2 separate regions of the Homo sapiens genome follow, and region 1 is linked to region 2. Evidence: fine-mapped expression QTL. A gene starts in region 2. The other region holds a variant in brackets. All regions are shown on one strand. Distances are from middle to middle.

Region 1 (2,996 bases), 21 kb before region 2:
TGTGGTGGTTACACCACGTTCCCTTTAGGGACCAGCTATCGAGCTGTGCCCTTATGACCTGGGGCACTTTTTGGTACTTTTTTTTTTTTTGAGACGGAGTCTCGCTCTGTTGTCCAGGCTGGAGTGCAGTGGCACAATCTCGGCTCACTGCAACCGCCGCCTCCTGGGTTCAAGCGATTCTCCTGTCTCAGCCTCCAGAGTAGCTGGGATTACAGGCGCCCACCACCACGCCCGGCTAATTTTGTATTTTTAGTGGAGACGGGGCTTCACCATGTTGGCCAGGCTGGTCTCGAACTCCTGACCTCAGGTGATCTGCCCGTCTCGGCCTCTGAAAGTGCTGGGATTACAGGCGTGAGCCACCACGCCTGGCCATATGTGGGTTTAAAGATTTGACTTTGCAACTCCTAAACACCTAAATAATGACTAAGTAGCGTGGGTTGCCAGGGGCTGGGGACGGGGAGTGAGCTGGTGACTAACACCCCAGGTCTCCTTTTGGGCCCATGAGAATGTTCTGGAGTGAGGCTGTGGTATCGGGTGCAGCACTCTGTTAATACTAAAAGCCACCGCATTTTATGCATTTTGTGGTCTGAGTGTTATATCTCTACAAATGAATGAATGGAAACCGTAGTCATCAAATGCAATTAAACATTCTTGGCGAAGCGAACCGCAGTGTGTGCCTCCTGGGAGCAACGGGTGTACACGCCCCCCCAGAGGCATTCCCGGGGCCCGAGGTCCCTAGTGTCAGGCCCGTCCTGCCCGCCTCCTCGCCCAGCTCCTCCAGCCCCTCCTCGGGGCCTCTGCCCGAGCCAGGTGCTACACCGGGGACACCCTGCCTGGCTCACACACGGCCTTGCTGATGTCGCCTCCCCGTCCTCGTCCCTCCCCGCTTCCCAGAGCTGCTCTCTGCTGCCTGCGTGATCACGGCCGCCATCCCTAGGCCCCGCTTCCTGAGGGTGGGACCTTCAAGCACACGGCAGGGCACGCAGTCGGCGCTCAATAACTGTTTGATGTGTGTTGTGGGTTGAACTACATCTCCCAGAAAGACAGGCTGACATCCTGACCCCCGGTTCCTGTGAATAGGACCTTATGTGGAAATAGGGTCTCTGCAGACATGGCCCAGTTAAGGCGAGGCCACGAGGAACCGGGTGGGCCCTGATCCAACGACGGATGAATTTACAAGAAGAGACAGAGACACACAGGGGAGAAGGCTGTGAGCAGATGGAGGCAGAGATCAGGGAGATCAATCTGCAAGCC[A/G]AGGGCGCCTGGAGCCCCAGACGCCGGAAGAGGCAGGAAGGATCCTCCCCAGGGGCTCCGGGGGGGTAGCACGGCCCGGCCCACGCCTTGATGTTGGGCTTCCGGCCTCCAGGACGGTGGGAGGCCGAATCTCCGCTGTTCAAGCCACTCAGCCTGTGGGTATTTGTTCCCGCAACCCTGGGAAACTTGCCCAGGGTCACTCAGGCTACCGGAACAGAGCTGGGAGTTAAACCCGCTCCAATCAGCCTCAGTGCCCCCAGGACCTGGTGCTCAGCGGGGCCTCTGCGGCTCCTCCCTCCCCACCCCCTGCCCTGCTTCTGCCCCGCCCTGTCAGGCACAGACCCAGGCAGTTCTGCTAAGGGGGCAGCGGGAAGCAAGGCGGGGGTGGCGGGGGTCCTGGGGGTGCAGAGGCTCACGGGGCGGGGAGGGGAGGGTGTGTACGCAGGTCTAGCTCGAGTCCCTCCTGCTGCAGCCTAGGCACCTCGCCTCCCTCAGGGACCGGCTCCTGGGCTCCAGGAGAGGGAGGCCGGCCCTGTACCGGAGGCTGCCTCCCGCCCGCCCGGCGCCCGCCTCACCTCCCGCAGGGGCCCGTTGAGCTCGCCCAGGATGCTGTCCTCGTCAAACATCTTGCCCTGGTAACGGTGCTCATAGTAGTCGTGGATCTTCTGGCGGAAGTCAGCTGGCAGCTTGTGGAAGGACATGTACTGCTCCACCTGCTTGTACTGTGGGGAGGAGGCGAGGCTGGGTCAGACACCGCCCCCGGCCTGCAGCGGGCACAGGGGCACCTGCTTGTACTGTGGGGAGGCGAGGCTGGGTCAGACACCGCCCCCAGCCTGCAGCGGGCACACGGGCACCTGCTTGTGGGTCAGACAGCCCCCCGGCCTGTGGCGGGGAGATAGGCCTTCACACCTGCTTGTACTGTGGGGGGTCAGGGCTGGGTCAGACAAAGCCCCCGCCCACAGCGGGGAGACAGGCCTCCGCCACACACAGGGGCGGCCAGATTCAACAAGAGCAAATAAACATGCTTCTATTTAAATCAAAGTTGAATTCGTTTCAATGATAAATTCCATTTTTTTTTTCTGAGACACTGTCTCGCTCTGTGGCCCACGCTGGAGTGCAGTGGTGCAATCACAGCTCACTGCAGCCTCCGCCTATGGGCTCAAGCAATCCTCCCACCTCAGCCTCCTGAGTAGCAGGGACTGCAGGTGTGCGCCACCACGCCTGGCTGATTCTTTTATTTTTTGTGGAGATGAGGTCTCGCCATATTGCACAGGCTGGTCTTGAACTCCTGGGCTCAAGGGATCCTCCCACCTCGGCCTCCTGAGTAGTGGGGATTACAGGTGTGCACCACCCTGCCCTGCTAATTTTTTAATTTTTTGTAGCGATGAGGTCTCGCCGTGTTGCTCAGGCTGGTCTTAAACTCCTGACCTCAGGCGATCGGCCTGTCTCGGCCTCCCAGAGTGCCGGGATTACAGGCAGGAGCCACTGCACCAGGCCGGGTGCCCTGAACTTTATCTAGCAACCCTATCCCTGAGGAATGGGTGGGCACCTGACTCTACGAGGAGAGGCCCCAGGTACCCTGACACACAGGACCCCCTTCCCGGGGGCTCTGGCCCTTCCCTGATGATCTTTCCAGAAACCATCGGGTCAGCCCCTCCTGAGCAGGGAAGGGAGCGTGGGTGCTGGGCGGGGGTGCCAGGCCCTGCTGTCCCCAGGACGGTGCCCCCCGGCAGCTCCAGCCT
Region 2 (2,720 bases):
ATACACAAACACACACGCATCCCTCCATGGTCGCGTGTGTGAGACCTGCCTGCGGCTCACACTACTGCCCACCGGTGCACACCGGCCCCGGGCGTACACGCGCACGCCCGCCACCTGGTCCCAACACACACAAACCACACGTCCCACCAAAATAAACCCACCGGAGGCGCACACGCCCGCGACCACCACGCAAACACACTCCTGGAGACACACCTCTCCGGCCACAGGCTCGCGCCCCGGGAACCCCGCCGCGGTCACGGGCCCCTGTTCACACACAGCCCACGGGGACACGCGCCGGTCTCGCTCTCCGGCCACAGCACGCACAGCCCAGGAACCACGACCGCAAACATCAGTGGCGGTGGCCCCGCGCCGGCCCTGCTCCGAGCCTTCCACGCATTAGCCGGCTGGATCCACAGCGGCGTCTACACACCCACCGCCGCATGCGCGCACCGCCCGCGGCTCGGGTGGAGCGGCTCCCGGGGACACAGCCTGGGGACCCGCACGCTTTCCAGGCCCGCGGCCCCGGGCGCGCCTCCTCGCAGGCGGGGCGCGGGTGGACGCCGTGGGAGCCGCTTAACCCCCTCTCCCCCGGCCTCCCTGGGGCGCGTCCTTCCCGGGCGCCCTTCGTTCCTCCTCCCTCCCGCTCCGCCGCCTCTCTGGGGCCCACGTTCCCCTCTATTCGTCCTCTCTGCCCCTCTGCGCTCAGACCCTGGCCCTGCGGCCCACCCCACCCGCCGCGCCGCAGGGCGGAGGATGTCGGGGTGCGTGGGAGGGGGGCGCTCCGCGGTCACCCGGGGAGCCCCCCCAGAGGCGGAGCCTCGCGCGCCGGGGTCACTCCGGGGCGGGTCCCGGACACGCCCGAGGTCACCGAGGAGCCCCGAGGTCACCGGCCCGGCGCGCCGCCCCGCCCTCCCCAGGCGCTCCAAGGACGGCTCCCCGCGCGCCCGGCTCCCCGGGCCCCCTCGCGCCGACCGGCCCTCCCGGAGGCGGTACCTGAAGTCGCTGTACGGGTGGATGATCCAGGCCCCCGCCGACTTGACGCGCTCCTGCTCGCGCTCCACGGCCTTCTGGCTGCCGAACATCCGCAGCGAGAACTTGTTGACGCCCGGCTGCAGGAGCGCGCCGAACTGGCGCTGCATGAAGCTGGCCTGGCTGCCGCGCGGCTCCCCCGCCGGGCCCGCCTCCTCGCTGCCCGCCTCCTCCGCCGGCCCCGGCCCCGGCGCGGGCCCCGAGGCCGCCCCGCGGCACGAGAACGACACCTTGGGCCCCCGCGCCGGGCCCTCGGGCCCCGCGGGGCTGCACTGCGGCTCGCCGCGCCCGCACTCGCCGTTCGGGCTGCCCTTGGCCGTGCTCGCCGCGCCCGGGGTGCCGGGGCGGCCGCACGAGCTGTCGCGGCTGCGGAGCCGGCCCCGCGGGCCGCCCTCATCCGCCGCCTCCGGGGGCAACGCCTCGGCCCGGGGCGGGTGCTGGGGGGGCGCGGGCCCGGGGCCCGGGGGGGGCGCGGGCGGCGGCGGCGGCGGCGGCTGCTGTTGGGGGGGCGCGGGCGGCGGCGGCGGCGGCGGCCCCGGCGCGGGGGTCGCGCCCGGGCTCTCCCCGGGCCGCCCGCCGCCCCCGCGCGCGTCCATGGCGAGGCGGCGCCGGGCAGTGCGGAGCGGAGCCGCCGCCGCCGCCGCCGGCCGGAGCCCGAGGGAGGGGGGAGGCGGGGGCGGGGCGGGGCGGAGCCGCGGGGGGCGGAGCCTCGCGGCGGGGGAGGGGCGGGGGAGGGGCGGGGGCGGGAGACCCGCCTCGGCTGCGCCCCCTCCCCGCGCGCCGCCTCCGCTCGGCGCCGGGAAACTCGGGCCGCGGGGTCGGGGGCGCCCCAAGGTCACGCGGCCCGAGGCCTCGGAGCCCCGCGCGGGCCTCTCCCCAGGAGGGGAAACTGAGGCCCGCGACGTGTAAGGACGCGCCCAAGGTCACCGGGCCCCGCTGCCCGGCCGGAGCCGCCTCTCCTGCGCCGCGGCTTCCACCTCTGTCCGGAGGGCACCGGCGCGGGGAGGGTGGACGCGGGCCTGGGAGACGGGAGAGGCCGCCACGGCCAGCGCCTCCTTGCTTTCTGTGAGGTTTGAAGACTTCCACGACGAAAGGGTGTTTCTAAAGGTCACAGGAGCCCTTGCTGGGTCGCCTGTGGGCCCTGGACAGAGACCCTTGAGTGCGTGGGGAGGGGCAGGCCGGCTTGGGCGCCGTTCTGGGAGACTCAGGCACTCCTCTCCCTGGTCTGCATTTGAGGAAACTGAGGCCAAGCCCAGCCAGACAAGGAAAACTGGAAAAGCCACCCGAGGGTGTGGGGTTCCCACCCACCCCTCAAACAGTGCCCTGGGGAGCCGTGCGGCGGGGGTCTCCTCTAGGTCTGGTGGGCTTTAGATTGGGGTCACAGGGAGACCCAAAGCCCACTAGCGCCTTCGCACGGGTACCAGAGCCCCCTGCCCCGGGGTTGCCTCCTTTCCCCGACCCCTCGGACTCCGGGTGCAGCTGTGCCCCCAGTGCCTCCAGTCCCCAGCTCTGAGACAGGTGCTTCCCAAGGCTCTGCTTCTGGGCCGAAGCCGGCTGGGCGTGGGTGCTGCTTGGTGCCAGGTGACATGAGGCCTCTGTCCCTAGCCACCCAGCCCACCAGACAGCCGGGAGGGGGCAGGTGAGGAAGCTGGCAAGTGAGAGAGAGGAGACAGACAGTCACACTCGAAGAA

What was found.
Region 1: its variant is fine-mapped to the expression of HCN2 in whole blood (TOPMed, PIP above 0.99). The same link has a PIP of 0.9 or more in blood mononuclear cells.

What each region holds. Positions count from the first base shown.
Region 1 is chr19:609,239-612,234 of GRCh38, reverse strand. It overlaps HCN2 (hyperpolarization activated cyclic nucleotide gated potassium and sodium channel 2), which reads right to left. Exons shown (of 8, transcript NM_001194.4): 5 at 1,830-1,976. LOC107987266 (a long non-coding RNA gene) reads left to right here. Exons shown (of 2, transcript XR_001753828.2): 2 at 1,081-2,295. Among named protein-coding and RNA genes, the nearest start is that of HCN2, 21 kb to the right of the region's middle. RefSeq lists an enhancer at 1,016-1,325. The variant A/G (reference allele first, on the strand shown) is at 1,255.
Region 2 is chr19:588,851-591,570 of GRCh38, reverse strand. It overlaps HCN2 (hyperpolarization activated cyclic nucleotide gated potassium and sodium channel 2), which reads right to left and starts at 1,690. Exons shown (of 8, transcript NM_001194.4): 1 at 994-1,690. The coding sequence starts at 1,625. It also overlaps the pseudogene LOC100420586.